Homo sapiens: one gene and its partner. The protein of the gene in region 1 purifies or fractionates together with the protein of each later gene. This does not show direct contact. Each region holds a gene or a part of one and is shown in the gene's direction. Other genes may lie near its edges.

The links.
Region 2: the proteins of DNAI2 (region 1) and DNAAF5 purify together in Homo sapiens (affinity purification with western blotting; 2 studies listed by BioGRID and IntAct, with this or other methods). This does not show direct contact.

The regions. Positions count from the first base shown.
Region 1 is NC_000017.11:74,296,382-74,312,233, forward strand, and holds part of DNAI2 (dynein axonemal intermediate chain 2), read left to right. Parts: intron 1-3,336; coding exon 3,337-3,476; intron 3,477-4,664; coding exon 4,665-4,787; intron 4,788-8,837; coding exon 8,838-9,061; intron 9,062-12,871; coding exon 12,872-13,007; intron 13,008-13,635; coding exon 13,636-13,782; intron 13,783-13,875; exon of another isoform or gene 13,876-14,026; intron 14,027-15,316; exon of another isoform or gene 15,317-15,621; coding exon 15,622-15,849; intron 15,850-15,852. UniProt on the Homo sapiens protein: Part of the dynein complex of respiratory cilia.
Region 2 is NC_000007.14:717,616-733,930, forward strand, and holds the start of DNAAF5 (dynein axonemal assembly factor 5), read left to right. Parts: upstream 1-9,083; 5' UTR 9,084-9,105; coding exon 9,106-9,700; intron 9,701-9,974; exon of another isoform or gene 9,975-10,061; intron 10,062-10,254; exon of another isoform or gene 10,255-11,319; intron 11,320-12,047; coding exon 12,048-12,232; intron 12,233-16,315. UniProt on the Homo sapiens protein: Cytoplasmic protein involved in the delivery of the dynein machinery to the motile cilium.

The DNA.
Region 1 (15,852 bases):
AGAGAGAGAGAGAGAGAGAAAGAAAGAAAATAGGGACAGGGTCTTGCTATGTTGACCAGGTTGGTTGTGAACTCCTGGCCTCAAGCAGTCCTGCCTCAGCCTCCCAAAGTACAGGCGTGAGCCACTGTACTCGGCCCAGCTTTTCCTTTTAAGCTTTTCGGTAGGTCTATTCCTTTCCCCACCTGTTATCCACTGCCTCAGGAAGCTGCAAAGTTAGTCAGTTGCCTGCAATTACACCCTGATGAAAAGACTTTTCACACCAGGCAAAGGCTGAACCAAGTCAATTACAGCCAACCTTGCAAGAGGAGCCTTATCAGGGAACCACCAGACCGGTCAGATAATGACAGTTCTTTGGGCATGAGACTTGAAAGGAGCTCCAGCCTCATTCTGCTCCCTCTTGTGGCGCCAGGCTGCTGTTTTTCATCAGGAGTGCAGAATGTGAATTTTCAAGGCCACCACGGAACTGCAGAGTGTGCGATCTTAACTAGGGCAAGTGAAAATGCCACTGTTCTTACCAAGATTCTGCTGTTTTTCTTGAATAAACATTCTCCCGACTGCCCTAAGCCTCTGGCTAATTTCCAGAGTTCTGAAAAAGTTGATTCTGACCATTTTTGCCAGTTTTCTCACTGCTATTATGGAGGAGAGAATTTTTGGAGGTCCTTACTTCACGGATTTTGCTGATGGCACACCTGGAAAACTGATTTTTGTTTGTTTGTTTCTTTGAGACAGAGTCTCGCTGTGTCACCTAGGCTGGAGTGCAATGTCACGATCTTGGCTCACTGCAAGCTCCGCCTCCCAGGTTCATGCCATTCTCCTGCCTCAGCCTCCCGAGTAGCTGGGACTACAGGTGCCCGCCACCACGCCCAGCTAATGTTTTGTATTTTTTTTTTTTAGTAGAGACGGGGTTTCACTGTGTTAGCCAGGATGGTCTTGATCTCTTGACCTCGTGATCTGCCTGCCTCGGCCTCCCAAAGTGCTGGGATTACAGGCATGAGCCACCGTGCCCAGACTTTTTTTTTTTTTTTTTGAGACAGGGTCTTGCTCTGTCACCCAGGCTGGAGTACAGTGGTGTGATCTCAGCTCACTGCCACCTCCGCCTCCTGGGTTCAAGCGATCCTCCTGCCTCAGCCTCCCCAGAGGCTGGTGCATGCCACCACGCCTGGCTAATTTTTGTATTTTTAATAGAAACAGAGTTTTGTCATGTTGGCCAGGCTGTTCTCAAACTCCTGGCCTCAAGTGATCCACCCACCTTGACCTCCCAAAGTGCTGGGATTACAGGCGTGAGCCACCAAGCCCAGCCCAAACTGCTTTTTTTTTTTTTTAATCTCCAGTGAGATCAGAAGTCACCTGCCTGGGTTGGCTCTGAATGTCCCTACCTGCTCTGTTCCCCTGAACCTGGAGTCGCCAGACACCCAACCCATGACTACACCCAGGCCAGTCTTGACCCTGGGCGTAAAAAGCATTCCCCACTCCTCTCTGCTCTGTATGTTCTTATACTTTTGCTGCTTCTTCGGGAGTGGGAGCCAGGATGGCTGAGAAACTCCTCCTCTGAAGCTGTCTGTAGTCAGCTGCTTCCTAAGGCCCCGATCTCCCTCTCAGACCTGCTGCCTCCTGCCCAGGGGAGCTTTCAGATTATGGAATAGACCCGGGCTCCCATAAACGTCCCTGCCAAACTATCTGGGTGCCAGAGCTCTAAAAGACTGAGGCAGAGCCACTTTGCCATGATTAATTCAAGAGCCTTGACTCAGTCATTATTCATAACCTCTTTCAGTGGTTTTTCATGCCAGCTCATACCAGCCCAGACTCTGGTGCTCCGCTGCTCCAAGAAGGGCCCCTCTAGGGCCATGTGGGACCCAGTGGGACCTACTCTTGAGCACTGCTTTGCCAAAGTAGAACAGGCTTATCTTTTATTTTTATTTATTTTTATTTTTTGTTTTGTTTTTGAGACAGCCTTGCTTTGTTGCCCAGGCTGGAGTGCAATGGCATGATCTCAGCTCACTGCAACATCTGCCTCCCAGGTGCGAGTGATTCTCATGCCTCAGCCTCCTGAGAAGCTGGGATTACAGGTGCCTGCCACCACGCCCAGCTAATTTTTTTGTGTTTTTAGTAAAGATGGGGTTTCATCATGTTGGCCAGGCTGGTCTTGAACTCCTGACCACAAGTGATCCACCTGCCTCAGCCTCCCAAAGTGCTGGGATTACAGGTGTGAGCCACCAGGCCTGGCCTATTTTTATTTTTTGAGACAGGGTCTTGCTCTGTCACCCAGGCTGGGGTGTAGTGGCACGATCATGGCTCACTGCAGCCTCAACCTCCCAGGCTCAAGCAATTCTCCCACCTCAGCCTCCCGAGTAGCAGGCAGCCTCCCGAGTAACAGCCTCCCGAGTAGCATGTGCCACCATGCCCAGCTAGGTTTTAAATTTTTTGTAGAGACGGGGTCTCACTATGTTGCCCAAGCTGCTCTTGGATTCCTGGGCTCAAGCAATCCTTTTGCCTCGGCCTCCTAATGCGCTAGGATTACAAGCATGAGCCACTGTGCTTGGCTGAGCAGGCGTATCTAAGAAAACATATTTCTGGGCCAGCTGAGTTCAGGGAAAATGCCTTGAACTTGGAGAAATACTAAGTCAAAGCTTACGAGCTAAGTACTTTTGTTATTTTACAAAACGGCCTTTCCTAGAAACAGCTCTGAGTGACAGGGTGAGCCCTCATTGTGCATTCATGGGAAAATGGAAACGAAATCTAACAGGACAAAGGACAGATAACCTTTCCATCTTTCTTGGCAAAGCACTAATAACAGATCACAGTAAAGGCTAAAGCTCCTCTGTGAGTTTCTTTCCAACAGAGGCAGCAGAGGTACAAAGGATAAGAGGAAATGGGCTAATGTAGCAGAGAGATTCACCTAAATGGAGTCTTTCCACGTGCTTTTCCCTACGTTAGGGACTCGGCTCTCCTCTCGCCTGGCTCCCTCCATCCTGAGGCTCATCTTCCATCTCAGCTACCTGTCACTTCCTCCAGGAGGCCTTCCCTGACCACCCTCATGTGTTCCCCTGCCACTATGCCTGTCCTATCCCCAGAGGCTTGCCCAGGGCCAAGTGTTGGGTAGGGAGTCAATGCCTGGGAGGGGCTCAAGGAACTGAATGAAGCTTGCACTCTGGGAGTCTCTCCAGAGAGTCTGTAGAGGCTGGTAGGAAACTCAGGCTGATTTGAACCAAGCCCTGATTCTAGAAAACCACATACCTGCCAAACCAGAAGCAGCAGCCCCCTCTCTCCCCTGCTCCCTGCCCTAAGGAAGGAAGCCTGTGCCCCCTTCCACTCCTTCTTCATCTCCTTCCTCACCAGCCTGCTGGGACACCCGAAAGGGCAGCCTGGTGGCGGAGCTATCCACCATTGAGTCCAGCCACCGAGACCCTGTGTATGGCACCATCTGGCTGCAGTCGAAGACGGGCACCGAGTGCTTCTCAGCTTCCACGGATGGGCAGGTACCCACCAGCCAGACACTGGAGAGAGGAGGGAAGGGAGGGGCAGTAACTGTTCCCTGGTTCCCCATCAGAACCCCTGGGGACATTTCCTTTAACACATTTTATTTTGAGATGGAGTTTCACTCTTGTTGCCCAGGCTGGAGTGCAATGGCACGATCTTGGTTCACTGCAACCTCTGCCTCCCGGGTTCAAGCAATTCTCCTGCCTCAGCCTCCCAAGTAGCTGGGATTACAGGCGCCTGCCACTATGCCTGGTTAATTTTTTATTTTTAGTAGAGATGGTGCTTCACTATGTTGGCCAGGCTGGTCTCGAACTCTGACCTCAGGTGATCCACCCGCCTTGGCCTCCCAAAGTGGTGGGATTACAGGCATGAGCCACTGCGCCCAGCCTAACACTTTATTTTTAAGTTGAGTAGTGATAATACATGCCCACGGAACAGAATCTAAAGGGTGCAAAAAAGAAAATGCCTTCCTCTCACCTCTGCCTGCACCTCCTCCCCTCCCTCCCTCTCTTATGTCTGCCTTCAGAGCTAGTCTCTGCGTATGCAAGGAAACACACCTCTCTCTTCTTTACTCTTTCTTTTTGCACACTTCACACACTATTCTGTACTCGATGTTTTCCATTGTGTGTACCTTGGAGATAGTTTCATATTTCATACACCGCTGCCCCATGCCTATTAATAACTGCATCATGTGGGTGTACCATAATTTATATATGGATTCTAATATTTTGTTGCTACCCCCCAAAAAATACAGCAAAGAGCATCTTTATACACAGATTGTTGCACACATGCGGGGATATATCTACAGCAGACATTGCTGGCAGTGGGACTTCTAGGTCGGAGCACACATGCATTTTTAACATTGCCGGATATTGCCTTATTGTGGGGAGTCTTGGCATATACCGATTCTTGGCCTTGCACCTGGAGGTTTTGATTCAGTAGGTCGAGGGCGAGGCCTCAGCATCTGGGTTGTATGAAGCTTGCCGGCGACTCTGATGATCAGCCAGGTGTGGGAACTGTGGACAGAACAGCAATCCTCAAAGTGTATTTGCTCCCACGAATTGCCGGGAGCTCCATCCTTTGTGGCCCAGTGGCTGACCCCAGGACGGTGGGGTGAGGGCGGAGAAGGCAAAAGCCAGGGGAAATACAGGGCCTCGAAGTCTCACTGTCGCCCCTCCTCCCACCAGGTCATGTGGTGGGACATCCGAAAGATGAGCGAGCCCACTGAAGTTGTGATCTTGGACATCACCAAGAAGGAACAGTTGGAAAATGCCTTGGGGGCCATCTCCCTGGAGTTCGAATCTACTTTGGTGAGTGTCCCTTGCTGTCCCTTCCCCGACTTGCATTGACAGGGCAGCCAGGGCTAAAGACAGGCCATTGCTAGGATATCAGGTGCTCGTGGAACCCAGCACCAGCCCAGGGAGGCCACCCTCACTGCAGCCATCCTAGACGTGTGTGGCCTTTACAACAACTTTCCAGCAGGGGGCAGCAGAGCTTCTCGAAGAAGGACACCATAGTCATCATGGCACCAAGTCATCTTTTGGCCAGTGGCCCAGCTGAACACAGAGGGCAATCTTTTGACAGAACAATTCCAGAAAAGCCCTGTTTTGTGGGGAAGGTCACGCCCAGGACCAACATCGGGAGGCCTGGACTCCAACCCAGGTCCTGGCCCTGCCTGGCACGGGGTCCCTAGGCTGGTCACCTGCCTTCCTCTGGGGAAGGAAGAGGTACTGGAGAGGAAAATGAGGTCAAAGCAGGCTCCTTGGAAAACCAGAGCACAAGCATGGTCTCGGTGTTCAGTCACTGAGAATGACAAAGAAATATCAAAGTTCAGGTCGGGCAGGGTGGCTCACGCCTGTAATCCCAGCACTTTGGGAGGCCAAGAATTTAAGACCAGCCTGGGTACATAATGAGACCCCCCCCACCGCCCGCCCAGTCTTTACCAAGAAAGAAAGAAAGAAAGAGAGGGAGAGAGAGGGAAAGAAAAGGAAAGAAGGAAGGAAAGAAGGAAGGAAGGAAGGAAGGAAGGAAGGAAGGAAGGAAGGAAGGAAAGAAGGAAGGAAGGAAGGAAGGAAGGAAGGAAGGAAGGAAGGAAGGAAGGAAGGAAAGAAGGAAGGAAGGAAGGAAGGAAGGAAGGAAGGAAGGAAGGAAGGAAAGAAGGAAGGAAAGAAGGAAGGAAGGAAGGAAGGAAGGAAGGAAGGAAGGAAGGAAAGAAGGAAGGAAGGAAGGAAGGAAGGAAGGAAGGAAGGAAGGAAGGAAGGAAAGAAAAAGAAGAAAAATATCAATGTGAGGCAAGGCGCCGTGGCTCACACCTGTAATCCCAGCACTTTGGGAGGCTGAGGTGGCAGGATCACTTGAGCCCAGCAGTTCAAGACCAGCCTGGACAACATAGCAAGACACTGTCCCTACATAAGAAAAGAAAAAAAGGGCCAGGCACGGTGGCTCACACCTGTAATCCCAGCACTTTGGGAGGCCAAGGCGGGCGGATCACCTGAGGTTGGGAGTTCGAGGCCAGCCTGACCAATATGGAGAAACCCCATCTCTACTAAAAATACAAAATTAGCTGGGCGTGGAGGCGCACGCCTGTAATCCCAGCTACTCGGGAGGCTGAGGCAGGAGAATTGCTTGAACCTGGGAGGCGGGGGTTGCGGTGAGCCAAGATCGCATCATTGCACTCCAGCCTGGACGACAAGAGCGAAACTCCATCTCAAAAAAAAAACAAAGAAAAGAAAAACAGGAAATATCAGTTTGAGCATAGTGCAAATGTGTTAGAGGAGGGAAGCTTCCTAGAAGCAGTAAAGGAAGACTTCCTCGCTAGAGTAAGAAGACAACTTTCCCTTGTTGTTGGCTTTTGGTTTGGGCTGAGTCTTGGTTTACGTCTTAGTGCAGCCCAGGCCTGGTTCCCCCTTGGGGGTGTCACTTGTTTGCTTCGGGGTCATGGGCCATCATTCCTAGGGCTTTGGGAGGCCCTGGCCTCGAACATACCTGGGCAACCCTAGCTCAAGGCTGAGAGATGAATGTTGATGGAAGGAGGAGACAATTCCACTGACCCCCTCCCCAGAGGACAAGGCACTGGGCAGGGAGGTTGGGGTGGCGAGGGCTCAGGAAAACATTCTGTCCCAGAGGCAAGGCTTTCTAGGCCAAGTGCTAGACATGCAGCCACATCACTACTAGGGCCATCTCCTCCATGCCTGGCCCTTGCAGGGTGCACACTGTGTGTTGGACACTTGTGGCTGCCTGATTTAATAAGCTTGTGCAGTCGCCTACAACCATCTCGTGGGGTAATGTTATTATCCGTACTTGCCAGACACACACGATGAGTCTTCATGAGATTAGGTTGTGAGTCCTAGTACCTGGTAAAGCTGGGACTCAAACCCAGGGCTCCAACTCTGAGGCCCAGAGTGTCCACCTGCAGCCCACCATGAAGTCTGAGGCTAGAGGCACGATGGGCCACTCAGATCTGGGTGGCCTTTCTCTCTGGCTCACTGACGGGCGGCGTGCAGTCGGCTTGAATACTTTCTTCTCTGGACCTCTCAAGCTTGGTCTTTCCACTTGCCCTTGACGCCCAACTTGAAGCCCAGGTTTTTGTTTTGTTTTGTTGAGACATCGTTTTGCTCTGTTGCCCATGCTGGAGTGCAGTTGTGTAATCTCAGCTTACTGCAACATCCACCTCCTGGGCTCAAGCCTCAGCCTCTTGAGCAGCTGGGACCACAGGCACATGCCACCAAGCCAGGCTGATTTTTTTTTTTTTTTTGAGACAGAGTCTCACTCTTGCCCAGGCTGGAGTGCAGTGACATGATCTTGGCTCGCTGCAACCTCTGCCTCCCAGGTTCAAGTGATTCTCGTGCCTCAACCACCACACCTGGCCATGTTCTGGGTATTTTCTAGAGATTTTATATTTATCATTTTAGTAATTTTCTGGTAGAAGAAAACTGCATAATAAAACAATATGTTTTTTAAAAAAATAAAAATAAAAAAGCTGGGGGGCCAGGTGCAGTGGCTCAGGTCTGTAATCCCAGCACTTTGGGAAGCCGATGTGTGCAGATCACTTGAGCTTAGGAGTTTGAGACCAGTCTGGACAACATAGGGAGACTCCATCTCTACAAAAATACAAAAATTAGCTGACCCTGGTGGTGTGTGCTTGTGGTCCCTACGTGGGAGGCTGAGGTGGGAGTACTGCTTGAGCCCAGAAGGTCAAGGATGCAGTGAGCTGAGATCGCACTGCTGCACTCCAGCCTGGGCAATGGAGCCAGAACCTGTCTCGAGAAATAAATAAATAAACTAGGAGTTCTTTTTTCTTTTCTTTTCTTTTTTCTTTTTCTTTTTTCTTTTTTTTTTTTTTTTTTTTTTTTTTGAGGTAGGGCCTTGCTCTGTAGGCCAGGCTGGAGTGCAGTGGCATGATCTCGGCTCACTGCAACCTCTGCCTAAAACCTGGGAGTTCTATAGGGGCAGGTTCACCAGCTGCAGAGGACATCTGAGCCCGTTGACAAAGGCCCTCCCCTCAGTGTGCCCCTCCCCTACCTCACTCAGCTGTTCTTTCCATTTGGAATGCTGAGGACACAGCACCATTGTAGGCTCAGGCCCTGCTGGTGGAGGTTGTTCAGTCTAGCCCAGAAGTTAAGACAGAACAGTAAACAAGGAAGGGCATTGCGTGATGGAGGGGGTCATGCTCAGAGACGCGAGGGGAGCACTGGACCAGGAGTCAGGAGACCAGCCTTTGTGCATTCAGTCCGCAGTGAAGTGAATAACTACTAAAGCTCAGTTCGTGGGCGATGGACCCATGTCAGACAAGCTCGTGCCCCTCAAAGAGCTCACCCACCAGTGGTAGGGGGACGAGTTACATCACCGACTGCCAGGTAACTTCCTGAGTGCTGGTTGGTCACCTGCTCTGAGTTCTCAGGGACACCAGCCTGGACAATGCTATGACAAATGTCACTGTCTTGCCAGGGAAGGCTCTGCCCATCCCATGAGTGATCTGGGTGGGCCACCCTGCATCCCCTCCCTGGGTCTTCTTTACTCTCTCTGTAAACAAACATTCAGGATCTTTATGGCCAAATGCATCGAGGACACAGTGGTGCTCTGCAGAGGGGGCTAGTGACCTGACAACCCTCCAGGACTGGAGGAGCCAGGGAGGGCTTCATTCAGCACAGGCTCCTTGAGCAGCTTCCAAAAAGATGGGGTCTGAGGAGCCCGGGAAGAGTGGGGACTGCTCTCCAGGAGGGGCCACAGCCCTTGCCAAGGCTTGATCTGAGGGCCTTTCTAGCGCCTGCAGACCCCCCAAGCAAGCTCCTGTCCATGCCCGCTAATCCCAGAATTGATGGTTCGTGGAGTCTTCCCCTCCTGTGTCACTCCTTCCACAGCCCACCAAGTTCATGGTGGGGACCGAGCAGGGCATCGTCATCTCCTGCAACCGCAAGGCCAAGACGTCAGCTGAAAAGATTGTGTGCACCTTCCCGGGCCATCATGGCCCCATCTACGCCCTCCAGAGAAACCCCTTCTACCCGAAGAACTTCCTGACGGTTGGCGACTGGACAGCCCGCATTTGGTCTGAAGACAGCCGGGAATCGTCCATCATGTGGACCAAGTAAGAGGCGATGCTGGGGACAGGAGGGGATGCAGGAGACAGGAGGGGATGGAGGGAGCCCAGCTGGGCCCCGGAGAGTCCCGAGCCTCCATATGTAAAATGGAGAAAAACCTTTCCACAAACACCCGAGCTCGTGTTAGCAAGTGACTTGCTCCAGCCACTCCACAAAGTGATAAGCTTCAAACACTCAGTTACTAAAAATAATGGCCATGGCTTAATTTTATTTCCTTTTTTTTTTTTTTTTTTTTTTGAGACAGTCTCGCTTAGTTCCCCAGACTGAGTGCAGTGGCGTGATCTCGGCTCACTGCAGCCTCCACCTCCCAGGTTCAAGAGACTCTCCTGCCTCAGCCTCCTGAGTAGCTGGGACTACAAGCACCTGCCACCATGCCCAACTAATTTTTGTATTTTTAGTAGAGATGGGATTTTGCCACGTTGGCCAGGCTGGTCTTGAACTCCTGACCTCAGGTGATCTGCCCACCTCGGCCTCCCAAAGCGTTGGGATTACAGGTGTGAGCCACCGCGTCTGGCTGGCTTAATTTTCATAATCCTCAAACTATCCCCAGGAGGAGGCAGCATTGCTCTTCTCTTCATCTCATTTTTCATGTTAGGGAACTGGGCTACAGAAAGGCCAAGCCACTTGCTCCTGCTCTCCCAGCTAGTGAGGAGCCGAGATTGGGTGTGAACCAAGGAAGCTTGGCTGGGAAATGCGGGTGCCTTGGCACAATTCAGCAGTGAGGCATAGCCTGTCTTGCTCAGTGCCACTCCTCTGAGGAGAGCAACAGACAGGGAGCTTGAGACAGAGCTATGAGCACAATGGTTAGACCAGAGAAGCTTAGACTATCACATCCCCCTCCATTCTTCTTAGGGCCCATTTACCTTGTCTAAAAGTGCCCTTTCTCCTCCTCCCCTTCATCTCCTAAATTAGGTAATAAGCCCGAATTCTAACCACCCCCTTGAGTCATTCACCACCGAGCACTGCCATGTGTATTGTGCATTGCATGTATAAATAATTACTTTTTTCTCTTGCTAAAAAAAACATCCTGGGGTTCCTTTCCTGCCCACAGAACCACAGACTCCTGCAACGTCAAAGCCACCAGCAACCCTAATGAGCATCTTTGGTTCCAGTGCTTCCCAAATCTGGTTGCATCAGAATATCTTGGGAGGAGTTTTTGTTTGTTTGTTAAAATGCTTTTGAGATGGAGTCTTACTCTGTCACCCAGGCTGAAGTGCAATGGCGAGATCTCGGCTCACTGCAACCTCCACCTCCCGAGTTCATGCGATTCTCCTGCCTTATCCTCCTGAGTAGCTGGGATTACAGGCGCACGCCAGCACACCCAGCTAATTTTTGTATTTTTAGTATAGACAGAGTTTCCCCATGTTGGCCAGGCTGGTCTCAAACTCCTGACCTCAGGTGATTCGCCTGCCTCAGCCTCCCGAAGGGCTGGGATTACAGGCATGAGCCACCGTGCCTGGTGGAGGAGTGATTTTTTTAAAATCCAGATTCTCAGCCCCAACCCTGGGGGTACTAACATAGAATCTTGGGCTTAGCCCAGGAATGGGTTTGCTAAGGAGCAACCCCAGGCTTGTGACTCAGCCAGTCCTTGCTTTGGGAGCAGAAACCTGGTTCGATGTCCTCATTCTACAGGGGTGGGAACGCTGGCTGACAAGGGCAGTGCATTGTTCCAGGCCTCATAGCAAGTAGGGGGTTCCCAGTAGATGTGAAGCCCTTTACAGGCTTTAGGAGCCTTCCCAATGTCTTCAGGTCCTGCAGGCTGCCAGGGCTGTGTGAAAGGAGCAGGGTGTCGAGCACAGCACCCATAGGCCTTTCGCAGGGCTGGTTCCTAGAGGGACTTGGTGGACCTGTGTCGTAGAACCTGGGTCTCCCTTGTCCTCCTCCTGCATAAGGTTAAACAAATTTAGCAAATAAGAATATTTGACCCTGGGCCAGGTGCAGTGGGCTAATGCCTGTAATCCCAGCACTTTGGGAGGCTGAGGCGGGAGGATCACTTGAGGTCAGGAGTTCAAGACGAGCCTGGCCAATATGGTGAATCCCCATCTCTAATAAAAATACAAAAAATCAGCTGGGCTTGGTGGCTAACGCCTGTAATCCCAGCACTTTGGGAGGCCGAGGCGGGTGGATCACCTGAGATCAGGAGTTCAAGACCAGCCGAGATTGCGCCACTGCACTCCAGCCTGGGCGACAGAGTGAGACTCCGTCTCAAAAAAAAATAATATTTGGCACTTAGTTAAATCTGAATTTTAAAAAAAAAAACTATTTTTTTTTTAGTATAAGTATGTCCCATGCAATATTTGGTATATACTTATACTAAAAATTATTCATTGTCCAAAAATCTCCAGATGTTTCTTTTTTTGGGGGGATGAAGTCTCTTTGTTGCCCAGGCTGGAGTGCAGTGGCACGATCTTGGCTCACTACAACCTTCACCTCCTGGGTTCAAGCAATTCTTCTGCCTCAGCCTCCTGAGTAGCTGGGATTACAGGCGCCCACCAACACCCCTGGATAATTTTTTTATTTTTAGTAGAGGCAGGGTTCTGCCATGTTGGCCAGGCTGATCTCAAACTCCTGACCTCAGGTGATCCACCATTCTCGGCCTCCCAAAGTCCTGGGATGACAGGCATGAGCCACCGCGCCCGGCCCAGATCCTTTCTTTAGTCTTGATCATTTCTCCCACTGTGGTCTGGCTGTCAACACACTAGGTTTGCAAAGGTGACTGGGAAGTGTAGTCTGCCTTGCTCACCAGGGGCCCAGCTACAACTATATTGCAATGGAGGAAGGGAGAGGAGGTCTGGGTGAAAATCTGAAGGCTGCACTGTGTGTGTGTCCCTTTTAAAAAAATGTTCCGTCTTCACTGAAGAAACTCTTGAAAACCCAGATGAAACCAAGTAGGAAGTGACACTCTCCTTATCTCAGCGGTAGCAGCTTTTCTGGGCATGTCCTTCCTCTGACTCCCATCCGTGAGTCCCAGGGCTGGGACCAGGTCCAGCAACACGTGCCTGCTGCCTGGAGTTAGCAGCAGAGAAATGCCAGTGGCCAGCCCACGGGAAGGACTGTGCCCAGAGCCCTTTCTTTATTTTATTTGAGACAGGGTCTCACTACGTTGCCCAGGCTGGAGTACAGTGGCACAAACATGGCTCACTGCAGCCTCGACCTCCTGGGCTCAAGCGATCCTCCCATCTCAGCCTCCCGAGGAGCTGGGACCACAGGTGCTCACCACCACACCCGGCTAATTTTTTTATTTTTTGTAGAAACAGGGTCTTTCCATGTTGTCCAGGCTGGTCTCAAAATCCTGGCTTCAAGCGATCTTCCTGCCTTGGCCTCCCAAAGTGCTGGGATTACAGGCACATGACCAGCCCAGAGCCCTTTAAAGAACAGCCTGTCAGACACCTGAGGTCAAGAGTTTGAGAGCAGCCTGGCCAACATGGTGAAACCCCATCTCTAGCAAAAATAAAATATTAGCTGGGTGTGGTGACGGGCGCCAGTAATCCCAGTTACTCGGGAGGCTGAGACAGGAGAATTGCTTGAACCCAGGAGGCAGAGATTGCAGTGAGCCGACATCGTACCACTGCACTCCAGCCTGGGCAACAGAGCAAGAGTGTCTCAAAAAAAAAAAAAAAAAAAGCAACCTGTGAGCTGTGGATGAGTGAGGTCAGCACAGCTAGAAGTCAGACACAAGGAAGAACTTCCTACCTAGCAAGACTCTGAGATCCTGGAGCCCAGAAGGGACCAAGTGAGCCAAGCTGTGGCTCAGAAGCCTCTGTCCCTCCAACCATGATGTGGTCTACCTCCCACAGGTACCACATGGCTTACCTCACTGATGCTGCCTGGAGCCCCGTGAGGCCGACCGTTTTCTTTACCACCAGGATGGACGGAACCCTGGATATCTGGGACTTCATGTTCGAGCAGTGCGATCCCACCCTCAGCTTGAAGGTCACGCGCATGTCCCTCCTTGTGCATCCAGGTCCTCAGGGAGCCAGGTCCCGGCGTGGGTGTGAGTGTGGGGTGCTGTGAGCACGTGTGCAGTGTGTGGCCAGGTGTGTTTGGGCCTCTGTGGGGGAGCCGTGTGCAGGCTGACTGCAGCGATTGCTTTTGAGCGTGTGCTCCTACAAAGGTTAAGGGGCCTGGGGGATTTGGCATCCTGGTAGCACAACAGAACCACCTGGGGGAAATTTAAAAAGAAACAAAAGCAGGTACCCGGCATCTCCTACCCACAGGCCGATTCCTTCAGAGCCCCTGGGGTTTGGCTGCTGGACCTTCCCCTTCATGTCAGGGTGGCCAGAGCTGAGCCCCACTGGCTGGGGCCACGGAAGGGTGGGGGCATTGGGGAACCACAGGGTGACTGTGAGGCGGAACTGAAGGGGTGGGGCGGGAGATGAGGCAGGGAAGCCAGGAGCCTTGACAACCAGTCTCCGAGTTTGAACTTCATCCTGTGGGCAGAGGCGTCCTGAGGATGTTTGAATAGGGCCAAGTGGCTGAGCCTCCCCAGGGGCCAGTTAATCAGACACACATAACTTTGCTCCTCTCTCCTCTACCTGGGTCTGCCCGGCCCCTTCAATAGGTGTGTGACGAGGCCCTCTTCTGCCTCCGGGTGCAGGACAATGGGTGTCTCATCGCCTGCGGCTCCCAGCTGGGGACAACCACCCTGCTGGAGGTCTCGCCTGGGCTCTCTACCCTCCAGAGGAATGAGAAGAACGTAGCCTCTTCCGTAAGCACCGGGTGCCTGGGGAAAATCCCTCCAGCACGTCCCGACCTGGCCCCACAGCAGAGCAGGCTAGTCAGACAAATAGATGGCCCCGCCCTCCCACCCCCAGAACATAGGTGCACATTTTGGGGGAAGCAGTGTGGGCTCCATAAATAGGTGTTGGTGTGTCCATTTGCCTTTGCTCAACTGCTGGGTAGCTAAGTGGCCTTCAGTAAGTCACGTCACTCTCCAGGATTCAGTTTTTTACCTGTAAATCAAAGAGGTTCGACTTGGTCAGTTTGTCTAGTTTCAAATAACACTTTTTTTTTTTTGTGGAAACTTTCCAATGAAGGCTTAGTATTGTATTATATTATATTGTATTTTAATTTAATTATTTTTATTTATTTATTTATTTTTGAGACAAAGTCACGCTCTGTTGCCCAGGCTGGAGTGCAATGGTGAGATCTAGGCTCACTGCAATCTCTGCTTCCCAGGTTCAAGTGATTCTCCTGCCTCAGCCTCCTGAGTACCTGGGATTACAAGTGCATACCACCACGCCCAGCTAATTTTTGTATTTTTAATAGAGACAGGATCTCACCATACTGGCCAGGCTGGTCTTGAACTCTTGACCTTAAGATGATCTGCCCACCCTGGCCTCCGAAAGTGCTGGGATTATAGGCGTGAGCCACCGTGCCCAGCCTAATTATTTTATTTATTTTTATTTTATCAGTTTATTTTATTTTACTTCATTTTGAGACAGGGTCTTGCTTTGTTGCCCAGGCTGGAGTGCAGTGGCACAATCATGGCCCACTGCAGCCTCTACCTCCCAGGCTGAATCGGTCCTCCCACCTCAGCCTCCTGAGTTGCTGGGACCACAGGCATGCACCACCATGCCTGGCTCATTTTTTAATTTTTGTAGAGACAGGGTCTCCTTATGTTGCCCAGGCTGGTCTGAAACTCCAGGGCTCAAGCAATCCTTCCACCTCAGCCTCCCAAACTGCTGGGATTATAGGCATGAGCCACCACGCCCAGCCTGAAGACTTAGTAGAATGCTAATAGGGAAGCCAGATAGAAGGGGACTTGAAGAGGGGGACTGAGATCCATTCCTACATCCTTTCCCCAGTGGACAGCCCTGCAGGCAACCCCCCAGAACCATGGGGAACACTGTGGAACTGAAAACCCCTAGTGCTAGGGCCGGGTGTGGTGGCTCACGCCTGTAATCCCAGCACTTTGGGAGGCCGAGGCGGGCAGATCACCTGAGGTCGGGAGTTCGAGACCAGCCTGACCAACATGAAGAAACCTCGTCTCTACTAAAAATAGAAAATTAGCCAGGCATGGCGTCACATGCCTGTAATCCCAGCTCCTTGAGAGGCTGAGGCAGGAGAATTGCTTGAACGTGGGAAGCAGAGGTTGTGGTGAGCCGAGATCGTGCCATTGCATTCCAGCCTGGGCAACAAGAGTGAAACTCTGTCTCAAAAACAAAACAAAACAAAAAAGGAAAACCCCTAGTGCTGAGGCCTGGAGAGCCTCCTGGCTCTGCCTGAGACTGGGATCTCACCATTGAGCTGGTCCTTGTTGGGCCAAAGCCGCCATATTTCATAGCTCCAAAGGGCGCTCTTCTGCCTGTGGTTCTGGAACTCCATGCTCCTTGGCATTGAGTAACTCAGTGTCCCTGCTGCAGCCTTCCAACCCCAATATTCAGCCCTCCTTCCTTGACACCAGCCCTGGGTACAGACCTCTACAGTACAGGGACTGTATGGAGAGCAAGGAGAGCTCAGCAGAAGCCCCACCTGGCCCCAGCACTGGAGTCGCTTGCCATCCTGCCCTCTCCCCACCGGGCTCTCTCTGTCCCTGGGTGCCCAGATGTTTGAGCGTGAGACCCGGCGAGAGAAGATCCTGGAGGCCAGGCACCGGGAGATGCGGCTGAAGGAGAAGGGTAAGGCGGAGGGCAGGGATGAGGAGCAGACCGATGAGGAGCTGGCCGTAGACCTGGAGGCGCTGGTCAGCAAGGCCGAGGAGGAGTTCTTCGACATCATCTTCGCAGAGCTGAAGAAGAAGGAGGCAGACGCCATAAAGCTGACGCCAGTGCCTGTA
Region 2 (16,315 bases), on another chromosome or scaffold:
CCACTGCACTCCAGCCTGGGCAACAGAGTGAGACCTTGCCTCAAAACCACACACCCACACACACAATGTTCTCTAATATTCAAGTTTTGCATTGTTCACTATGTAGGTAAGGGATGCAAAATTTCACGGGAAATTTTGCCACAAACCTCAATAGTCTTCTCTACACATGGCTCCTGGGTGTGGCAGGCACTCTCAGATGGCCACAGGGTCCCCACCTCCCAGTGCTCATGGCTTGTGGGGTACCCTCCCCTTGAGTGTGTGTAGGTCCTGAGGCTCACCCCTGCCCGGTGGGGTACAGCAAAGGTGAGGAGTGAGCATCACATATGATTCATGGCAACATCTGCCTTGCCAGGGGACTCTCTCCCTTGCTGGCTTTGAGGAAGCCAGCTGCCCTTTCATCAGTGGCTGTAAGAGGACCCCGTGGCCAGGAGCTGAGGGTGGCCTCCAGTCCACAGCTAAGAAAGTGAATGCTGGAAACAACCAAGTGCACTTGGGAACGGTCCCTTCCTCAGTCGAGCCTCAGATAAGAATGCAGCCCCAGCATGGATTGCAGCCTTCAGAGGACCCAGTAAAGCCATGCCTGGACTCCTGACCCACAGACAGCCGGCCCCAGGCCTTCACTGGGGGAAGCTTTATAGATACACACACACACACACACACACACACACACACACACACACATACACATATATACATACATATATATGTATGTATGTATATATATATATATATCTCCTCCTGCTTCAGCCTTTTTTTTTTTTTCCAGAGTCTTGCTCTGTCACCCAGGATGGAGTGCAGTGGCACAATCTCAGCTCACTGCAACCTCTGGCTCCTGGGTTCAAGCAATTCTCCTGCCTCAGCCTCCCAAGTAGCTGGGATTACAGGTGGGCACCACCACTTCCAGCAAATTTTTGTATTTTTAGTAGAGACGGGGTTTGACCATGTTGGCCAGGCTGGTCTCGAACTCCTGACCTCAGGTGATCCACCCGCCTCAGCCTCTTAAAGTGCTGGGATTATAGACGTGAGCCACTGCACCTGACCTGACCCATTTTTAAGTCTAGAAAATGTGCCTTCATTATCCCTTCAAATACCTCCTACTTCCCACTTTTCTTCTGCCTTCCTGGGACATCTATTCAACAGATATTAGCATTGTTGCTTCTGTTCTCCATATCCCTGACCTTTTCTCTTACATACTTCTTGTTCCTGTTTCATTTTGGTAACATACAGAACTTCATCTCTTTTATAGGCTTTTTTTTTTTTTTTTTTTTTTTGATGAGATAAGGTCTCGCTCTGTCATCCAGGCTGGAGTGCGGTGGCATGATCATAGCTCTTGGCAGCCTCAACCTTCCTGGCCCAAGTGATCCTCCCACCCCAGCCTCCTGAGTAGCTGGGATTACAGGTGCACCCCATCACACCCAGCTTATTATTTTTTCTTTTTCTTTTGAGAAGGAGTCTTGCTCTGTCACCAGGCTGGAGTGCAGTGGCCTGATCTCAGCTCCCTGCAACCTCCGCCTCCCAGGCTTAAGCAATTCTCCTGTCTCAGCCTCCCGAGTAGGTGGGATTACAGGTGCCTGCCACCACACCCGACTAATTTTTGTATTTTTAGTAGAGACGCGGTTTCACCCTCTTGGCCAGGCTGGTCTCAAACTCCTGAGCTCAAGTGATCCACCCGCCTTAGCCTCCCAAAGTGCTGGGATTACAGGCATGAGCCATTGTGCCCGGCCATAATTTTGTATTCTTTTTGTAGAGATGGGGGTCTCACTATGTTGCCCAGGCTGGTCTCAAGCTCTTGGGCTCAAGCAATCCTCCTGCCTCAGCCTCCCAAGTACCTGGGACTACAGGTGTGAGTCACTGCATCCAGCTAAGTTTTAATATTTCTTTGTAGCGACGAGGTGTCACTATTTGGCCCAGGTGGACGTGAATGCCTGGCCTCAAGTGATTCTCCCGTCTCAGCATCCCAAGGCCTGTTTCATTTGTTGTAACGTGTTGGCCCTCCTGTCCTACTGCCCTGCTTCTGTCATCCAGTTTATAGCTATTCCGTCTGGCAGTGTGTCTGGGGAAAGAAGAGAGGTCATGACCCCTCTGGGTATTCATGCAGTTGCCACCACAATCCAGGTACTATACTGTACCAGCTCCACAAGGCTCCCTCCTAGTGACCCTTAATAATCACGCCACCCCATCCCTAGCCCCAGGAGATCAGTCATCTGTTCCCCATCTCTGTTACTTTATGGATGTCATACAAACAAAACCACAAAATATCCCTTTGGGATTGGTTTTCATCTGCATAATCTTTTAGAGGTTCGTCCAAGTTGCGTGCAGCAATTCTTTCTGAGTAGAATAACTGTCTAATCTCCATGTGTGAAGATTTTCCTGCTATCTGCTGTTGATGGTAAGTGTGATTCCATTATTGTCAGAGAAGGCGTTCTGTGCAAGTCTTTTTTTTTTTTTTTTTTTTTTTGAGAGGGAGTTTCACTCTTGTTGCCCAGGCTGGAGTGCAGTGGCACAATCTTGGCTCACTTCAACCTCCGCCTCCTGGGTTCAAGTGATTCTCCTGCCTCAGCCTCCAGAGTAGCTGGGATTACAGGTGCGTGCCACCACACCCAGCTAATTTTTTGCATTTTTAGTAAAGACAGGATTTCTCCATGTTGGCCAGGCTGGTCTTGAACTCCTGACCTCAGGTGATCCGCCTGCCTCGGCCTCCCAAAGTGCTGGGATAACAGGTGTGAGCCACCGCGCCCAGCCCTCTGTGCAAGTCTTCTACATTTGCTAAGGTTTGCCTTATGGCCCAGGATATGGTATATCTTGGTCTCTGTTCTGAGGACACTAGAAAATAATGTGAATTCTGCGATTGTTGAGTGGTGTGTTCTGCAAACGTCAATTAGATCCTGTTGGTTGATGGTGTTGCTCTGCTATACCTTAATGACTATCTGCCTAGTTATTCTAGCAGCTGCTGAGTTGGGGGCTGAAGTCGTCAACTGCAACAGCAGGCTTGTCTCTTCCTCCTTTCAGCTCTATCAGTTTCTGCTTTATACATGTTGAAGGTCTGTTGTTTGCTGTACACACATTTGGGATTGCTGTTATCTTCCCAGTGGGTTCTTTTATCATTATGTAATGTCCCTCTTTTTCCCAAGGAATTTCAACAGCCACTCCCGCTTTTTAAAATTTATGTTTACATGATACTCTTTTGCCATCCTTTTACTTTCAATGTGCCTATGTTATTATGTTTGAAGTGAGCTTCAGCATATAGTAGACATCATACAGTTGGGTCATGTTTTGTATCCACGTGGCGAACCTCTGTCTTCTAATTGGTGTGTTTAGGCCATTTACATTTAAATTAGTGATATATTAGGGCTTACGCTTGCCATTTAATCATCTGTTCTCTCATGCTTTACTGTGGGATACCTGAATGTTTTTTAGAATTCCACGTTATGTTTTTGAGGATATCACCATATACATATGCAACCCATCGGTCTATCGGCATCTATGATTTTCCACCTTGAGTGAGTGGACAAACCTTCCTTCCACTTAAGTCCCTAACCCTTCTCACTGTTAAATACCTAGCTGTAGATATTTCCTCCACATACATCACACACCACATGAGTGTTGTAATTTTTGCTTCGATCATCAAATATGATTAAAGAAACTCATGAGGTGAAAGATGGTCAGTGACATTGACTTCTATTTTTATCCAGTCCATTGTCTCAACTTTCTGGAGGCCCCAGCCCTCTTCTGTTAAAATTATCTTTCTGGGCCGGGCACGGTGGCTCACGCCTGTAATCCCAGCACTTTGGGGGGCATTGAGGCAGGTGGATCACCTGAAGTCAGGAGTTCAAGACCAGCCTGACCAACACGGAGAAACTCTGTCTCTACTAAAAATAAAAAAATACTCGGGCATGGTGGCACATGCCTGTAATCCCAGTTACTCGAGAGGCTGAGGCAGGAGAATTGCTTGAACCTGGGAGGCAGAGGTTGCAGTGAGCTGAGATCATACCATTGCACTCCAGCCTGGGCAACAAGAGCGAAATTCCGTCTCAAAAAAAAAAAAAATTACCTTTCTGTTTACAGGGTATCCTTTATGCATTCCTTAAAGGTAGGTCTGCTAGCAATAAATTCTATTAGTTTGCCTGTCTGAGAACATCTTTACTCCTCTTCCATTCCTGAAGGATAGTTTTGCTGGGTAGAGGACTCACAGTCAACAGCTCTTTCCCCTTTACAGTTGAACAATGGCAGGTCACTTCTTTCTGGCCTTTTGTGGTTTTGGTTAAGAAATCTGCCTTCATTCAAACTGGTGTTCCTCTCTAGGCAAGGCATTATTTCTCTCTGTCAGTTAGTACTTTTCCTCCTTCTGTCTTTAGTTTCCAGGAGTTTAATTGTGATGTGTCTTAGTATGGGGTTTTTGGAGGGCTTGTCCTATGAAGCCTTGTTGAGCTTCTGGAATCTGTGGATTTATGTTTTTCATTGAATTGGGGGAGTTTTCAGCCTTTTTTTTTTTTTTTTTTTTTTGAGATGGAGTCTTGCTCTGTCACCCAGGCTGGAGTGCGGTGGCATGATATTGGCTCACTACAACCTCCACCTCCTGGGTTCAGGCAATTCTCGTGCCTCAGCCTCCCCGAGTAGCTGGGATTACAGGTACCCACCACCACACCCAGCTAATTTTTGTATTTTTAGTAGAGATGGGGTTTCACCATGTTGTCCAGGCTGGTTTCAAACTCCTGACCTCAGGTGATCTGCCCGCCTCGGCCTCACAAAGTGCTGGGATGACAGGCGTAAGCCACTGCACCTGGCTAATTTTTCTATTTTTAGTAGAGATGGGGTTTCACCATGTTATCCAGGCTGGTTTCAAACTCCTGACCACAGGTGATCTGCCTGCCTTGGCCTCACAAAGTGCTGGGATGACAGGCGTGAGCCACCGCGCCTGGCTAATTTTTGTATTTTTAGTAGAGATGGGGTTTCACCATGTTGTCCAGGCTGGTTTCAAACTCCTGACCTCAGGTGATCTGCCCGCCTTGGCCTCACAAAGTGCTGGGATGACAGGCGTGAGCCACCGCGCCCAGCTGGTTCTTATGACTCTGCTTTAAAATTCTTGGCAGATGATTCCAACATGTGACCTATCTTGGAATTTACATCCGTTACCTTACCATGTTCAGGTTGTGGCTTTCCTTGTTCTTGGTATGACAAGTGATCTCCAGATGTATCCTGGACATTTGGGTTACGATGTTTGCAGACTCCTTGTCCTACTCTATTCCACCAGGCAGTTGCTCTGTTCAGGTCCAGGGTGTAGATTGCAGCCTGTTTTTGTGGTCTGTCATTCCAACAGCAGTTTCGTCTTCAGAGCCCTGGCACTGCCCTCCTCGTCTGCTTTATTCTTCTGGCTCTCCTGGGACTGCTGCTCATTTCCCATGGGTGCTGCCTGCAGGGGTGAAAGGTACCTCCCTGGGCCGCCTGGTGTCACTGGGCTACCTTTTGCTGTGTCAGGACAGAACATGCTCGTTCTGGGTCTCTTTGTGCTAAGAGAGGAAGGGCAGATTTCAGGCTCCTCTGACACTACCTGTGCAGTGCAGACTGTCCACTCGAACCCCAGTTGCACAGCACAGGTTAATGCACCTGCAGCAGCTTTAAAATCGGCCCTGAAAGCAGACTGTGGGGTGAAGGTGGCAGCTACCCTCTAGGTCTCTGTTGGGCGTCCCCTTTCCCAGGGCTTTGGCCAGAGAGAGGAGGCTTTCCTTGGAGAATTTCTGTCTGTGCCTGTTGGCTGTTCTGGGCCACAGGCTTCCCTGGGGACTAGTGCAGGAACACATGAGAGAAAAAGAAAACCCAGGGGACCCACCACCTTGCTATTCCTCCAGTCCAGAGGTCTCCAGCCCGTCTGTCAACTCTCAAGCTCCTTTCCTCGTCGCCTGCTATGTGCAGGGTATTTTGTTGTATTTCAATGGGAGGAGCAAGGAAAAGTGAAGTCCCACCACCGTAATTCAAGCGCTTATTCTTTCTCGTCTTCAGCACTCACTGCCACAGCCTTCCCAGGGCTCCCGACCAATCCGTTCAACGGAAGCCAAAGGGGTCCTTGAAAAATGCAGACTCGATCTTGCCAATGCTCCCACCTTGAAATCCTCAGTCTGCCATGTTTTAGGACAGAGGCCCCCATGGCCTGGCCCCACCCATCTGCTCACTCCCTGCCTGCTCCCCTGTGACCAGGGTCAGCCTCCCTCCCTGTTTGCTACCTGAGGCTGCCGTAACAAAGCACACCAGGCTGGGCAGCTGAATGAAACAAATTTGATTTCTCAAGATCAGGGTACGGGCTGGCTCCTCTTGAGGTCTCTCTTCATGCTCATACTGCATTCTCCCTGTATGCACGTCTATCTCCAAAATTTCTCCTTTTATGAGGACAGCAGTCATATTGGATGAGTGCCCAACCTCATGACCTCATCTCACCTCAATCACGTCTGCAAAGACCTTGTCTCCAAACAGGATCACTTCCTGAACTATGGGGGTTAGGACTTCAGCATATGAATTTTGGGGAGACGCCATTCAGCCCGTAACACTCCCATGAGGCCTTTGCTCATGCTATTTCCTCTCTCTCCAACACTCCCCGTCTCCCACCTCCGCCCTTTCACCTGGCTATGTGACATGGTTTGGCTGTGTCCCCACCCAAATCTCATCTTGAATTGTAGCTCCCACAATTCCCACGTGTTGTGGGAAGGACCCAGTGGGAGGTAACTGAATAATGGGGGCAGGTCTTTCCTGTGCTGTTCCTATGATGGTGAATAAGTCTCACGAGATCTGACGGTTTTATAAGGGGGAGTTTCCCTGCACAGGCTCTCTCATTTTCTCTTTGCCTGCTGCCATCATGTAAGATGTGACTTGCTCCTTCCCGCCTTCGGCCATCATTGTGAGGCCTCCCCAGCCATGTGGAACTGTGAGTCCAGTAAACCTTTCCCTGTATAAGTTACCCAGTCTCGGCCATGTCTTTATTAGCAGCGTGAAAATGGACTAATACACTGTGTTTACTTATTCTTCATATTTCACCTCTGCTACCATTTGTTCAGGGAAGCCTTAAAAGTCTAGTTCAACATCCCTTGACACTCATTCTCTCAGGACCACCACGGTTAAACACATACTAATTTATCCTTCCATTAAGGGCTATCTCATCCTGCAAGACCCTAAGATCTGGGAGAGCAGGGACCATGGCCAGTTTCTACATCATTGTCATCCTGTCCCACATGTTGCAGACAGTGCCTGGTCAAACAAATGCCTGTTGGAGGAAACAATGAATGAAGGTTACTGAATATGCTACATAACAACTTTTCAGAAGTACTGATGGGCCGGGCGTGGTGGCTCACGCCTGTAATCCCAGCACTCTGGGAGGCTGAGGCGGGCGGATCACGAGGTCAGGACATCGAGACCATCCTGGCTAACACAGTGAAACCCCGTCTCTACTAAAAATACAAAAAATTAGCTGGGCGTGGTCGTGGGCACCTGCAGTCCCAGCTACTTGGGAGGCTGAGGCAGGAGAATGGCATGAACCTGGGAGGCAGAGTCTGCAGTGAGCGGAGATCGCGCCACTGCACTCCAGGCTGGGCGACAGAGCAAGATTCCATCTCAAAAAAAAAAAAAAAAGACGTACCGACAAACACCACCATTTTGCAACACGAAGATCAACAACAAAAAAGAAGGTCAAACTTGAAGTTCTGTCCTAAAATTACACACATTCTGCCTTTAGAAAACTCAGTGCATGGTCACAGATGAGAAGTGCCTGGCTAACCAGACTTGGGGACTCCTGGTTTGCAGTGAGTGCTGTCAAACTCGCGTTCTAGGCTGGGCTCACAGCAACTCCGACTCCAAGCTGTTTAGGCGCCTCTGTCTCCACTCAAGTCCACAGTCAAGGTCACTACTGTGAAACACTGTCTTGCTTTTAATTTCCAAGCTGCCTTGTTATTTCTTGGGAGTAGGCCAAGCTAACTTTAGGAGGAACTTAGTTTATAGTTTAACTTTGAAACAAAGATGATAACAGCCCTTTCCTGAAGCCAACCTCCTTCTTGCCTGGGGACCAGAATGCTTTTGTAAGACTAACACATGAGCCACAAGATTAGAAATTGTGGTTTGAGTCATGCAGCTAGAGGCCACAAGATTCCAAACCTCCCCAGTTGCTCCTTAGGATAACACCACTATCATCAACTCTAAGATTGGTGCTCAAGATATTTTTCAGGCTCTGCATTCTGATGCACCAGGTGCCACCACCCACACCACTAATCTGGCTCAACCAGTTCTGTGATCCCACCCAGGAACAGAAGACAGCAAGAGAATCAACTTTGACTCTCCATGGTTTCATCTCCAACCCGACCAATAAGCACTGCCCTCTCCCTGGCCCCCTACCTGCCTAATTATCCTTAGATGACCCATCTCAGGATTTTCAGAACCTGGTTTGAGCAATAAAGCTCCAGTGTCCTTTAGCCAGTTTCTGCATGCAGCCAGTTTCTGCATGCAGCCAGTTTCTGCATGCATTAAACTCTCTATTGCAATTCCCCTGTCTTGATAAATTGGCTCTACCTGGGCAGCGAGTAAGGCGAACCTATTGGGCGGCTACGCCTGAGATCTAATGACAGGCTGCACGTGAAGCCCAGACCAGGCACCTGTCTTACACCACAGGGGGATCCAGTCCACAGAACCAGCGTCCTTCCCTCCTGGAACGGACCTTCCCAAAGCCAGAGGGGCTCTAGGCGGCTCAAACAGGGGCTTCCCGGCTACCCTGGTCCCAGGCGGGACCACTCAGGTTCCTTCTCCAAGCCCCCTAGGCTGCAGGGCAGGCTTCCCTAGGGGCAGGCCCAGGCCTATAGCCCGGGACCCGCATCCCGGGCGAGCTGCACCCTCCCGAGACCTTCCCCATCTGTACAATGGGGACAGGACAAGGCCCAGCAGGCAGGCTGGCGGGGGTTCCGGCGACAGAGGGGGACAGCGGGCGAGCACGACAAGAGCACAGGCCCACGTGCGCACCGGCGGGGAGGAAGTAGCCCGGCGCCCCGCCCGCAGCGCGGACCGGAAGTGCTGCCGTAATCTGCGCTGAGAGTCGCGAAAGCGCTGTTCCCCTTAGTGACCGGCGACGCGGGCAAGATGGCGGCGCTGGGGGTGGCGGAGGCCGTGGCGGCCCCACACCCGGCTGAGGGGGCCGAGACGGCTGAGGCGGTGGAGCTGAGCCGCGCCCTGAGCCGCCTGCTGCCGGGGCTGGAGGCCGACAGCAAGCCGGGCCGGCGGCGCGCCTTGGAGGCCCTGCGGCGCGCGCTGGAGGAGCCAGGCCCTGCCGCCGACCCCACCGCTTTCCAGGGCCCCTGGGCGCGCCTACTGCTGCCGCGCTTGCTGCGCTGCCTGAGCGACCCCGCCGAGGGCTGCCGCGCGCTGGCAGTGCACCTGCTGGATCTGGGCCTGCGCCGCGCCGCGCGGCCCCGCGATGCCCTGCCGCGCCTGCTGCCCGCGCTCGCCGCGCGCTTGGCCGGCCCCGTGCCCGCGCGCCGCCCGCCCGAGGCCTGTGAGGAGCTGCGCCTGGCGCTTGTGCAGCTGCTGGGCCTGGCCGTGGACCTGTGCGGCGCCGCGCTCGCGCCCCACCTGGACGACGCTCTGCGCGCGCTGCGCTGCTCCCTGCTCGACCCCTTCGCCGCCGTGCGCCGCGAGAGCTGCAGCTGCGCCGCCGCCCTGGCGCAGGCCACGCCCGGTGAGCACCCCGGGCCCCGCTCCCACACGCCACCCCACACTCTCACCCCCACCTCCACCTCCGCGGCCCCTCTCACAACCCCCGCGGCTCGGCCCCGCCCCCCTCCACGCCCGCACCCCCCAACATCCCGGACCCCCCATGCGCCGCTTCCCCCACCCGCCTGCCCCAAAGCACCCCGCCCGGCCCCCTCCTCCCACCACCACTGCTTCCCCTGCCTCACGTCCCGCCACCAACGCGCCCTTCAGCTGCTCCCTTGTCCTCTACCCCCATGTACCTGTTTCCTGCGCTGCCACGTGCTCCTTGCCCCGTGACCCCTGTTCCTGCTTGGCCCTCACTCACCTCACTCCCCTGTCCCCTTGCTCCCCGCCTCCACCCTCCACGCCCCAAGCCCCGCCCCCCACCTGCCTGCTCCCTGTGCCCCCTCCACCTGCCTATCCTGTGCCATCCTCCTCCTTGCACGCCGCCCTCCCGCGACCCTCACCTCCCACCCTCCTCCCTGCCTGAGCCCCCTCCACCCCACCCGGGCCCACGAGCCAGCGCTTCTGTCCAGATACCTGGAAACCACCGCAGAAATTCCTGTTAGGCGGTTTGGGGTGGGGTGTGCCCTGATAGCTGCCCCCTTTCCTTCCCTCGGGGGCTTGCAGGACTTGCACCTGGTTGAGGGCACGCGCTTTGAGACTCTGCTCTGGTCATTTCACTTTCTGTCCCATTCATCCTACTCCCCTGCCTTTCCGCTCTGGCTTGGACCACTGTCCTAAGTGGAAGGAGGCCGCTTCTCCCCTCCACTTTATAACGTTCCCCATCTTTTTTAGAGCTCTGATCTGATCCGGTCGTTCCCTTTCCTTAGCTGGCCATTCCTGCAGGGTCTTGCCCTTTCCCTCCCCTGGCTGGGATGTGGAATGATAGCAGGCGCCTGCTTCCTGCTGGCGGGAAGGCTTTCCGAAGGAGGGAACACTGATGCTATAAATCCGTGGGCGGTAGGGAGCAGGAAAGCAGTGAGGGATCTGGCCAGCTCAGGCCGTCCCAGTGATGTCCCAGTGATGGTCTGAATGTAGTGGGAAGTGCAGGGGGTGTCAATAGAAGTGATAGACCCGAGTTCAGGTTGTTAAAAGATCACTGCAGCTGCGTGGAGAATAGATTCCAGAAGTAGAGGAAGAGCTGGACTTGGGGAAATGCCGAGATTTCCACGTTGGTTAACTTTGGATTTCACATGGTCCAGAACTCCTGTGGAGCTTGGGGAAGAACCTTGGGCTGGATGGACATGGCCATTGAGAATTCCTGGCATTTAATGTATTTCTTCTTCATCCTCAACCACTTCCCTACCCAGTCTGTACATCAGCCCCACGAGCTCCCTCCCTGGACCGTAGGTTCCACAGGACAGCACTGTGCCCATCTGTGCCCCAGCCCCAAGCGCAGCCTGCTGGGGTATGTGCTCACTGGTTGCTGTGGGGTGAGGGACTGTGCCTCTGCCTGGAGCATCCCCTCATCTCCAGCACCTCTGGCCTTCCTCTCCCCTGGGTGGGGGGCCTCACCTCTGGTCTCGGTCACACTGGGCAACGGCAGAGAGGTTGAGGCGCTCACCCAAAGTCTCACTGGAATAGCCGTTTCCCAGACGGGCCCCAAGTAGTGCAGAGCTGAGGCAAGAGGCGGCCTGGATGCCAGAGACCCTTTGGTTCTGACTTTTTTTTTTTTTTTTTTTGAGACAGGGTTTCACTCTGTCTCCCAGGCTGGAGTGCAGTGGGGCGATCTCAGCTCACTGCAACCTCCGCCTCCTGAGTTCAAGCGATTCTCCTGCCTCAGCCTCCCAAGTAGCTGGGATTACAGGCGCCTGCCACCTCTTGTTCTGACTTTCTGCGGGGACTTTACAAATAGGAAGTGCAGTGGCTTTGCCTGGAGTGGTGCTGGCCCAGCTTCCTGGAGGAGCCTGGGGTCTCGTCTCAGGTGGGGCTGGGAGTGTGGCCTCGCCTCTGTCTTCTGGGCTCGGCTTCTTTCCTCTGGCCAGTGTCCCCGTCAGGCCTCCACCTTGGCTTCAGCAGGTCCAGGCTCTCTGGTCTTCAGCCACAATGGGTTTGCACCCCCAGCCTTTCCCCGCTGGTCCTCCTAAGCCTCTGGGTTGCACAGGTGTCATCAGGGTGGGACGCTTGTCCCTGAGCCTCTTCCTGTGCCGGGCGGTACAGAGCTCTCCTTGGCAGCCTGGATTGTGTACTGTTCATGCAGCAAGGACCTGGCGTAGGAGAGGAAGGGAGGTGAGGAACTCATAGGCAGGCAGCCGTCCTCTGGAAGCCCACAGAGCTGGGCGAGGCGTGTGGGAGCAGCTCTGGTAACTGGGGGCCTCCCTGTCCCTCAGACCACTTCCACATGCAGTCGGAGTCTCTGATCGGGCCCCTGATGCAGACCATCTCCCACCAGCACTGGAAGGTCCGTGTGGCCGCCATTGAAGCCACAGGCGCAGTGATCCATTTTGGCAACGGGAAGTCCGTGGACGACGTGCTTTCCCATTTTGCTCAGCGACTGTTTGATGACGTCCCGCAGGTAACTGGTGTTTCTCCTGGACAGTCTGTTCCTCTCTCCAACACAGGCGGGCTGACGTGCTGTTTTTAACTAACTCACTTGTTCTTTTTTCAGAGTGCTGTATGCACCAAATGTCCTTTCATTATTCCTAGTCACAGGACGTTCCTGTTCACATCTTGGAAAAACTAGAAGAGAGCTGAACTGTTTTAATGTTTGATGTTATGAATTCCAAGGATGTTAGAAAGGATGACTTGTGTAGTTATTGTCTCTTAGGCACAGTGTGCACTTCAGCAGTTGCAGAAGGTTCCTTAGTGCTCCCATCCATCAAGACGCACTTTCCCGAAAAGCCACCATGGTTGGTGGACCTGGACTGGGAGAAGAGTGGAGTCGGGGTTGGTTTGTTGGGGATAATTATGTCGTTGGGCTTTGGAACCCACCAAGAGACGGGCAGGCAGGCAGGCAGGAGTCCTACAGATGGGGCTGAGTGTTGGCTTTACTGCTGGCAGAATCTGGCCTGGAGGGCATGTCTTGGATCTGAGGCCCCAGTGACTTGCTAAAATGCTACACACTGTGGCCACCGGGGAAGCTGAGTGACCTCTGATCTTTCTGTCTCTGAGTTACCTGTCATCGTAGTCAGACATGTGATCTTTTGTGTCTGGCCTCTTCACTGTGCATGGTTCCAGGTTTCAGCCTTGAAGAGGTAGGTTTCCTGATGAGAAATGGCTTGAAGGTGGTGAGTTGAAGAGTCACTCGGGGTATTCTGGGGCCAGGATGGAAGCCCTGACTCGCTCCCTCGTCTGTGCTGCTGGGGTCCACCCGTAGGGCCGGCTCCAGGTGTGACATAGCACCTGCTCAGGACACCCCTGCTTTGCCTCCATGGCCAGGCTTCATTCTCCGGCTCTCTCCCTCCAGCAGCAGAGTGGCTGCCTAGGGGCTGTGCGCAGAGACACAGGGGGACCCTTTCCCACCAGGAGCCTTTGTTCACCCCCCTTGGTCTCATCAGGCCAGCGGAAGTTGAGTCACCATGTACGCTGGCCGGCCCCTCCTGGAGCTGGCGTGGGTTCGGCACCAGGCAGCACAGAGGGCCCCTGAGGACATCAGGCTCTGCCCAGTGGGGAGAAAGTGGGCAGAGTGCGGGGTCAGTGTCCATGCTGCCCGGCACTTGCAGCAGGCACTTCTGGCACTGGCTAAATATTTGGGCTGCGGAGGGCAGTTCAAGGGGCCAGGGCAAGAACAGAGCCCAGCAAGAAGTGCAGGCGGCCGGCTGGTTTTTCTCTCCCACCTTCCTTAAGCCTGAGGCAGAGCATGGCCCACAAGGAAAGTGGAGTCTGTGTCATGGGCCAAGTCTTACTCCTCAAAACAGTGTGATGACTCTGTATGGAGAGCTCTGTGTGAATACTGAAGCTCCATAGCTGATAGCTGTCGGTGTAAGCCTACTGTCACTGTCTAAAAATAACCATCACTGTCTAAAAATACCGTCACTGTCTAAAAATACCATCACTGTATCGATAGCTGTCTGTAAATACTGGAACTCTGTGGAGCACGCTCTGTAAATACTGGAACTCTATTGCTAGCTGTAAACGGTGTAACTCAGTATAACTATACCGTAACTCTAAAAATACCATAACTATGTGTCGACAGCTGCCTATAAATGCTATAACTGTATTGGTAGCTATGTATAAGCAGCCTACTCTGTATCAATAGCTGTCTGTTAGAAAGCTGACATCACATTGTTGATCTAAAGCAAGCTTGTCCAACCTGCGGCCCGTGGGCCACATGCAGCCCGGGACGGCTTTGAATGCTGCCCAACACCAATTCATAAACTTTCTTAAAATGTTACGAGATTGTTTTTGTGATTTTTTTTTTTCTTTTAGCTCGTCAGCTATCATTAGTGTTAGTGTTATTTTATGTGTGGCCCAAGACAATTCTTCCAGCATGGCCCGTTTCTTCCCAATGGGGTTTGCGTCCTATTAGAGACCCTGCACGGCCCTTCACGTGAGTTTCGTGTGGAGTCACGGTGCTGCCCCTTTTACTCTGATCAGCCCTGCGACCCCGTCCTGGAGCTCCATGTGGGCTCCTTGCAGACACCTCCACCCCCTCAACAACCCAGGGACTGGTGCCCTGGGACCCCATCCTCTCTGCACAGAAGGTCCTGACTGCCTTCTGACTCGTAGGAAACCTTCCAGCAGCCTGCTAGACTCGGCTTAAATCACTGAACTTCACTGGAAGGGCCTGGAAATAACTTCATCTCCTCCTTACAAGGCTCAGAGGCCTCAGAGCTCACTCAGGTAGCACAGCCAGGTGAGCCTCAGAGCAAGGTCAGGACACAGGCGGTCTAGCCGCCCTGGAGCCTTAGGCCCCGGGATGGTGTCTGAAGTTGTGGAAAGGGGGTGTCCCAGTGCGGCAGGGGCTAATGCATCTCCCCACGCTCACATGACTGCAGCTCCGAGCCCAGGACACTGACCACACCCAGAACCCCGGCGAGGCAGGCAGGACGGACGTATGGCCGTGCAGTTGTGAAGCAGGCCTTGAACAAACTGCCCTGTGCCGCCCTCAGGTGGGTGACTCATGGACTTCGCCCTGCAGGGGTGCCCTGGTTGTCGCCAGGCCTGCAGTCGGCAGCTGCTCAGCTTTGCTGCAGTTTTCCTGCTCGATGTGTGCTGCTGGTGAGGCCACCAGGCCTGTTCTTGTCAAGAGAGACCTTCCGGGAGCAACAGATGTTACAGGAGAGACTGGGGATGCATGGACAGCTTTTCAGAGATGAGTGTTTGTCACGTTCCTGCCAAGTACCTGTTTGCCATTTGTATGCCTTCTTTTGAGAAATGTCTATTCAGATCTGTCCATTTTTAAATCGCGTTATTAGATTTTTTTCTATTGAGTTTGAGCTCCTTATGGATTCTGGTTGTCAGTCCCTTGTCAGATGGGTATTTGTGCAGCTGTTTGCTCCCATCCTGTGGGTTGTCTCCTCACTATTGATTGTTTTATTTGCTGTGCAGAAGCTTTTTAACTTGATGTGATCCCATTTGCCCAGGCCATGTCCCAGAGAGTTTCCCCAATGTTTTCTTTTAGTGGTTTCATAGTTTGAGGTCTTAGATTGAGGTCTTTAATCTATTTTGATTTGATTTTTGTACATGGTGAGAGATAGGGGTCCAGTTTCATTTTTCTGCATATGGAGTTCCAGTTTTCCCAGCACCATTTATTGAAGAAACTGTCCTCTCCCCAAGATATGTCCTTGGCACCTTTGTCAAAATAAGTTCACTGTAAATGTATGGATTTAATTTCTGGCTTCTCTATTCTGTTCCATTGGTCTGTGTGTCTGTTTTTATGCCAGTGCCAAGCTGTTCTGGTCGCTGTAGCTCTGTAGTATAAATTGAAGTCAGGTAATGTGATCCCTCCAGTTTTTTGTTTGTTTTTGTCTTGTTTTGTTTTTTGCTCAGGATGGCTTTGGCTATTCAACGTCTTTCGAGGTTCCATATAAATTTAGGATTATTTTTTCTATTTCTGTGAAGAATGTCATTGGTATTTTGATAGGGATTGCGTTGAGTCTGTAAATTGCTTTGGGTAGTATGGACATTTTGGGTAGTATGGACAATATTGATTCTTCCAGTCCATGGAGTATGTTACCATTTTTTGTGTGTGTCCTCTTCAGTTTTCTCATGTCAGTGGTTTATAGTTTTCTTTCTTTTTTTTGAGACAGTCTCGCTCTGTCATCCAGGGTGGAGTGCAGTGGTGCGATCTCTGCTTACTGCAAGCTCCGCCTCCCAGGTTCACGCCATTCTCCTTCCTCAGCCTCCCGAGTAGCTGGGACTACAGGTGCCTGCCACCGCACCTGGCTAATTTTTTGTGTTTTTAGTAGAGACAGTTTCACCATGTTAGCCAGGATGGTCTCAATCTCCTGACTTCGTGATCCGACTGCCTCAGCCTCCCAAAGTGCTGGGATTACAGGTGTGAGCCACTGCGCCTGGCCTTATAGTTTTCATTGTAGAGATCTTTCACTTCTTTGGTTAAGTTAATTCCTAGGTATCTTATTTTGTTTGTAGCTATTGTAAATGGAATTACTTTCTTGATTTCTTTTTCAGATTTGTTAACTGTTGGCATGTAGAA